Homo sapiens: one gene and its partner. The protein of the gene in region 1 purifies or fractionates together with the protein of each later gene. This does not show direct contact. Each region holds a gene or a part of one and is shown on either strand. Other genes may lie near its edges. The genes, in order: ALG6 and UNC5B.

The links.
Region 2: the proteins of ALG6 (region 1) and UNC5B fractionate together in Homo sapiens (co-fractionation; one large-scale study listed by BioGRID). This does not show direct contact.

The regions. Positions count from the first base shown.
Region 1 is NC_000001.11:63,426,519-63,430,332, reverse strand, and holds part of ALG6 (dolichyl pyrophosphate Man9GlcNAc2 alpha-1,3-glucosyltransferase), read right to left. Parts: intron 1,601-3,814; coding exon 1,532-1,600; intron 1,406-1,531; coding exon 1,207-1,405; intron 1-1,206.
Region 2 is NC_000010.11:71,215,417-71,219,230, reverse strand, and holds part of UNC5B (netrin receptor UNC5B isoform 1 precursor), read right to left. Parts: intron 2,008-3,814; exon of another isoform or gene 1,596-2,007; intron 1,238-1,595; exon of another isoform or gene 1,003-1,237; intron 1-1,002. UniProt on the Homo sapiens protein: Receptor for netrin required for axon guidance. Mediates axon repulsion of neuronal growth cones in the developing nervous system upon ligand binding.

The DNA of each region.
Region 1 (3,814 bases):
CACTAAAAAAGTAGAAACAACTTCATGTCCATTAATTCATGAATGGATAAACAAAATGTGGTATATCCATATAATGGAATATAATTTGGTAATAAAAAGGAATAAAGTACTGATATATGCTATAACAAATGAACCTCAAAAATATGCTAAGTGACTGGGCGCAGTGGCTCATGCCTGTAATCCCAGCACTTTGGGAGGCCAAGGCCGGCAGATCATGAGGTCAGGAGTTCAAGAACAGCTTGGCCGACATACTGAAATCCCATCTCTACTAAAAATACAAAATTTAGCTGGGCATGGTGGCGCATGCCTGTAGTTCCAGCTACTAGGGAGGCTGAGGCAGGAGAATTGCTTGAATCCAGGAGGCAGAGGTTGCAGTGAGACAAGATCATGCCACTGCACTCTAGCCTGAGTGACAGAGCAAGACTCTGTCTCAAAAAAATAAATAAATACACACACACACACACACACACACACACACACACTAAGTGAAAGAACCGAGTCATAAAGACCACAATTTTATTATCCCATGTTATGGACTGAATTAAAATTCATATGTTGAAGCCCTAACCCCCAATGTGACTGTTATTTGGAGATATAGCCTTTTAGGAGGTAAATAAGGTTAAATTAGATGATAAGAATGGGGCCCTAATCCAGTAGTACTGGTGTCCTTACAAGAAAAGGAAGAGACAACAGAGGTCTCTCTCCATGTGTGACACATAAAGCAGAGACCTTCTACAAGCCAGGAAGAGAGGCCTCACCAGAAACCAACCCTGATGGTAGAACCTTGATCTTGATCTTGAACTTTTAGTCTCTAGAACTGTAAGAAAATAAATTTCTGTTGTATTTTGTTATGGCAGCTATCACAGACTAATACATTCCATTTATATGCAATGTCCAAAGTAGGCAAATCTAAAGAGGCAGAAACTGGCTGTCCAAGGAAGGGAGTTAGGAGTGAGAATAGAATTGGGAATGAATGCTAATGGGTACAGAATTTCTTCTGGGAGTGACAAAATAATGTAAAATTAGATGATGGTGATAGTTGTGCAAATCTGTTTACATACTTAAAACCACTAAGTTGTATACTTTAAATGAGTGGATTTATGTGAATTATATCTCAAAAAGGTATAAAAGAAAATCACTACTTCAATAATTTTTTAAAATAGTGACATGCTGAAAAATGTGTCATTTCTTAAAAATTGAACTTACCAAATATTGTATAATTCTGGAAAGAAATGTAAAACATGGAAGATATTTCCTCACAGAAATGGAAAAGGATTTCAACTGCAGTTCTTCTTCAGAAGTCTTTTCAAATATTGAAAAGGAAGTTACACAAGCTATAAAAAATGCCATTGTTGTCACAACAGAGGGCATTAGGAGTTCATCCTTCAATAGAAGAGGTAGCATACTGTAAAGGAAAATTTTTAAAAATCACAAGAGAATTATCAATTCAAACCATAACCACTTCATAAAAAAGTTTTAAATTAGTTTACAAGAATTATACTGAAAATATATGGAAATTGATATGACTTACCTAAATGTTGACACAAGTAAAAACCAAGTAGACATAAAAGGAATTTCACTTAAAACTAAGCAGACTGGTCTAAAATCGTAAAGAAAAAAATATTTTAATATTACAGAATATAACTTCAACTCCTAATTGTAAAAAATATAAATACATTTTATCTGTCTGATTTTCAGCGGTAGCTTAAAAACAGCCAGGAAGGTCTTCATATGGACTACTGATTCATTTTGTTAACAGTCCAGACTAAATTAGCCTAGACACAGGCACAGAGGTGTCAACTCCTCATAATAATTGGAAAACTGCTGCTTCCAGTATGCCGTTAATGGAACTTTTTTTCTCTATCATACAAACAAGTAGCTTAAGAAAAGGATCAGATAAACAAATCTGAGAAGGCTTTGTCACATATTTCGTAGTACTTGGTAAATATGAATTCCCAGTATTGTTTTCAAACATCTCTTTTATGTTCTTTCATGTTACATATTACTCCGCTAAGTTAAAACTAAAGATATGGCAGACAACATCATCATGCCACTGGAGAGGACAAGAGAGACAAGAGGATAAAGGAAAACAAATTGATAATAATAAAATTAAAAGGAGGAAGAAATTAGTAGGAAGAGCTACATAAAAAGGGAAATAGTATAGGAACAGGAAGCACAATGCCAATAAACAGAACCACTGGCTTTATCAAAGAATTGTTTAGGGGCCAGGCACAGTGGCTCAGGCCTGTAATCCCAGTACTTTGGTAGGCCAAGGCTGGTAGATCACTTGAGGTCAGGAGTTCGAGACCAGCCTGGCCAACATGGTGAAACCCCATCGCTACTAAAAATACAAAAAAAATTAGCTGGGCTTGGTGGTGCGTGCCTGTAATCCCAGCTACTTGGGAGGCTGAAGCAGGAGAACTGCTTGAACCCGGGAGGAGGAGGTTGCAGTGAGCTGAGATCACACCACTGCACTCCAGCCTGGGCAACAGAGTGAGATGACAGGGCGAGACTCCATCTCCAAAAAAAAAAAAAAAAAAAAAAAGTTGTTTAGGGTCATAGCTCTAAGCCCTGTAACCTCCTTACCACAACTCCTGCTCCAGTACCTTTGGGATTCAATTGTGGCAATGCTCAAAGAAGGAGCATTGCTAGTGTGAAGCCCTGAGTCCTGGTCCCCATGTTTGCCCTTTATTTACTGTGTGACCTTGAGCAAATGATTAATCTATTTTCTTAAGTGGAAATGGAAATAATAATAATACCCTGTATTCTTAAATAGTTGAAAGAACTCTTTGCAGGTATCATCTAGTGTTTACTTTTTTAAAATACAATAAACTTTCCTAATGATGGTGGTTGTTGAATAATTGTTATCATTATTTTGAATCTCTTTATTTTAAAAAGTGCTCTATAAAGATTTGGGCATTCTCCCCCTTTCCCAGAAGGATGACTTTTTCCTATGTCAACTAATATATGAGATTTAAACCCTGGGATTATAAACTGAAAACTACTAAAAGAAATTACTAGGCCGGGCGCAGTGGCTCACACCTGTAATCGCAGCACTTTGGGAGGCTGAGACAGGCGGATCACGAGGTCAGGAGTTCAAGACCATCCTGGCCAACATGGTGAAACCCCGTCTCTACTAAAAATACAAAAAAAAAAAAAAAAAAATTAGCTGGACACGGTGGTGCGTGCCTGTAATCCCAGCTACTCAGGAGGCTGAGGCAGGAGAATTGCTTGAACCAGGGAGTCGGAGGTTGCAGTGAGCCGAGATCGTGCCACTGCACTCCAGCCTGGTGACAGAGCAAGACTCCATCTCAAAGAAAGAAATTACTAGAGGACTTTCCATTTCACTGCTTGAGAATGGACGCATATTAATAGCAAGCTCATTGAAGGTGCTCAATAAATACTGTTTTCTCTTTCTGGTTTAATTCTTTCCCATTTATGCATTCAATATTTATTTACCAAACACAAGCATTGACAAAAAATGTATTACAGCCGGCGCAGGGGCTCACAACTGTAATCCTGGCACTTTTGGAGGCCAAGGTGGGAGGATCACTTGAGCCCAGGAATTCAAGACCAGCCTAGAGAATATAGCAAGACACCACCTCCACAAAAAATTTACAAATTAGCCTGGCATGGTGACGCACGCCTGGGGTACTTGTTACTTGGGAGGCTGAAGTGGGAGGCTCACTTGAGCCCAGGAGTCCGAGGCTGCAGTGAGCTATGACCATGTCACTTTGCTCCAGCCTGGGTGACTAAGTGAGACCTTGTCTCTTAAAAAAACTTACTACATATAAGCACTGCTCTGAAAGGAATA
Region 2 (3,814 bases), on another chromosome or scaffold:
CCTGTCTCTTCAGCCTTCTAAGTGAGAGCTTCCACCTTCTCGGTGAGTTCTTACAAGGACAAAGTGAGACTGCACATATAAAAGGGTTTTGTAAACTGTAAAGCAACATGCACACCAGGGTGGGGCGAGGGACTGTGATTTTCCTATAGGCCTCCCTGCTCCAGAACAGTCCATCTTATCCTAGAGTTGAAGTGATGGAAGTCCTTCCTGTGGACAGCCCTGGGAAAGCAGGTAAGCGCTTCTGTGACCAAGAAAGTTGTAACGACAGTGGAGTCCAGCATGTGTGTGGGTGTGTCTGTCCTCTTTAAATTGCTACCGCTGAGAGTCCCAGGCCCCAGCCACGTCAGCCTGAGATGGGGTTCTCCACTGGGGATCCCACCCACTCAAGCTCTGCTGGCCCCTTCTCCAGCAAACTCTAGAGGAGAACTCACTCCCTTTGGGGGAGACAGGCTGAAGCATAAGCTGACCCAGGTCAGAGAGCAGATCTCCAAACCACAGCCGCTCCCATGCTCTGGGGAAGCTGGGAGTTGACTGCAGAAGACTCCAGGTCTGGGACTCTGATCTTCCTGGGGGCAGTAGCCCAAGCTGCTGGGCTGGCTTAGGGTCCATCTCTGCCAACCTTCCTCCCCCTGGAGCACCAGGACCCACCTGCAGGCAGGCCTATCCCATCTGCACTCAGCAGGGGAAGCTGTCCTCTGCCCTTCCAACAGCAGAACCTGGCACTCAGGCCAAACCCTGCTCACAGTGCAGGTGTGGGGCAAAATGAGGTCTCTTAAGTGCTGATGGGCAAATGGCCTGGGTCCCATCCTGAAGTGGAATCCCCAACGGAATACAATGGATGGAGCTTCCCATGCCTGGTGGTGACTCACTGTCTCCACATTACACATACCTATTTATACACAAACACACCACAAGTGTGCCCATGTGACATTGCCCACCCCACACACACCCAAACACAGACACAGCCTATACATCACACCTCCTGAGTTACAAAAGGCACAACCCTCCTCAAACACACATCCATCCTCCGGCACACACCCAGTCCATGCCTCGCCCCCACACACACCTGACACCCCAGTGCAACACCACACCCACCCTCCCCTCCCTGCAAACTCCCACCTCCGCCCACCTGCTTAATACACATTCTCACCCCCCACACACTCCTTAATACATACTCTCACACCCACAAGCCTGCCTTCTTGGAGAAGTGAGCCGAGCCGTGCAGCGCCGCGAAGGGGTAAGTTGCAAGCACTGGGGGCAGCCTGTTCTGGGAGGTGAGAAGGAGGGCGGCTCCGTGCACTCACTCGCTAGGCGGTGGCGTTAGAGCTCCCGGGGCTCCGCAGACCGATTTAGCTCGGCTGGGGAGGGAGGTGGAGATGGGGACTGGGGGTGGGGGACGCAGGAGAGGGTAGAATCCAGCCCCACAAGCGGCGGCGATGCTAATCAGGCCGCTAAGATGGAAAAGGTAAATTCTGGCGCCCAGCAGCCCAGCGCTTTTGGAGAGAAGGAAGAGGAAACAAAAGGGGTGGGGGTGGGGGAGCGGGGAGGCGGCTGATTTATGCCTGCACTTCAGCAAATATTTTCGCTGCCATTAGCATCCCCGAAGACCGGGAGGAACGCCGCGGGGACCTGTGGCTTAGCGCGCTCCGCCCGGGCTTGTCTGCCCGCGGGGGCGCAGCGGCTGAGGCGGCTCCGGGCCGGAGTTCCAATCAAGCGCCACCCAACTCCCAGTCGGGGGCCGAGGCCAGCGCCGGGATGCCAGCTTCCCCCAAAAAGATCCTGCCTCAGGGAAATGCATGGAGCCGGCGGAAAAGCCCGCGGCGCCCCCGGCGGATCGCAGACCCTAAGGGGGCGGGAGGTGGCGCCCCAGTCCCAACCTCTTGAGCCAACCCAGTGGGTGGGAAGTGCCCTTACCCTAGGCCTTCCGCAAAGTGTTCTCTCCTTGTATTATTCTAATTACGGTATTTTTAATTTCCTTAAAAAAATAAGAAACAGAAAAGCACAGAACGCACTTGTTTGGTTTCATTTTGCCTTCACAGCTTTAATGACTCTATTTGTGGAAGCTGTTTAGGAAACTGGTGAGGAGGAGAAGGAGGAGGACGCCAAGAGAAGCGCCAGCTCTGGCCTGAGCGCCGGCTTTCTCCTCCCTACCCTCTGGGGGCCATCTGCCCAGGCAGCAGTTTCCCTGGGCCCAGGCTCCCACCCCCAAGTCCCAGCCTATGACCCAGCCCCCTCTGCCCTTTCCTGAAGGCGGCAGTGGCCTCCAAACTGTCTCCTTTCCACCCAACCCCAACTCTGAGGGTCAAAAGACGGGCTGCCTGCAGGCCCTGGGGGAGGGAGGTACCAGCACTGTCTATTCAGAATCACTAACCTGGTCCGAGAGCACTTGGAATGGAAATGATCCATCTCCCCCCAGCCCATCCCCAAAGTCTTAGGCAGCCCACAAACCTCCTTAGAAAACCTCTGTGGCTCAGGGAATGGGGCGTAGGAGGCAGACCTCGTCTTAAGCCTGACACCCAGGAAAAGGGTCACTAGACCTGCGGTCCAGGAGAAACTCAACAACAAAGGTGGGGGAGGGCACTGGCTCCTAAAGCTTTGAATATAAGTAAAAAGTAAAAACATATTCTGTCCCCAACTCTACAAATGGGTGCAGAGCTATAAAATGCTAATGTTTATTTGGCCATGCAGCCCAAGGGAGCTTGGCTTGTGACCTGTCTCCCTTCCCCAGGTCAGGGCAGTTGCTCAGGAGGCCAATGCTGGGGGTTGGGGGAGCCACCTTTGGGCACTTGCCTGGTCTCAGAGCTTCACTCCTGACCTTTGGCTCTGCCCTGTTCCCCCTCTCCTGGAACACCTCTTCACCCTTCCAACTCTCAACCTCTTTCCTCCATCCTGCCATGAGTTCCAGTCTAAAGCAGCCATCAAAGCGATCTTATCTTTAGCTGCCTGCCTTAAGTGGTGCCTCAATTTCAGAGTCTCAAGCCCACACCCATGATGGTGGGTCTCCAGCCCAGATGGAATGAAGGAGCTAGAAGCACTAGATTGAGGTTGTGAGGCCTCAGTTCAAGTCCTGGCGCTACCGGTGAGTCCCAGTGTGACCTTGGGCAAGTTGGCCTGTCCCAAAGTGTCAACAGTTAAATAAATGGATTGGAAAAGAGGGGAACTGTTTTATCCTACAGAATTCCCTGTTTGTGGGGGAGGGGAGAGAGGTGGAGGAGAGAGATTACAGGAGAAATTCCTCCCCTGCAGTGGTACTTTCACTTTAATGAGAAAACCCATTAAGACACTTGATTTTCCATTTGTTTAAGTGAGATGGGTGTTTGCTACAGTGAGTGCAGAGGGAGACAAGGACAGGCTATCATTGTGTGTGCACAGGCGCATGCACGCGAGCACACACACACACACACACACACACACACACACACACCAAGCAGAGACACTACAAAAACTCTGATTTTAATTGCACCTTAAAAAGAAGTATTATCTTGACACCTCGACTCCTTCTCAACCATCCCAGCCAGAGGCCATGGAAAGGCTCATTAAAAGCTCCAGGAAGGGCTGAAAGGTGGGGTGGGAGGAGATTTCCAGGGCCAACCAGAGCTTTTGAAGTGGCCTTTTCTGGCTAGTCACTTGCTGACATTACCTTCTAAGGGTCTGGGGTTTTATGGTTCCAGTTTTGATTTCTCCAGCATCAGACTTTACAGCTTAAAAATATTCTCAGTGCTGTAAAGGGAGCTCATTCCCATATTCACCAGGGATGGGGTGGGGTGGGGAAAAGGAGAGAGAGGTGCCTGCCACTTGAGGGGAGCTTGGACAC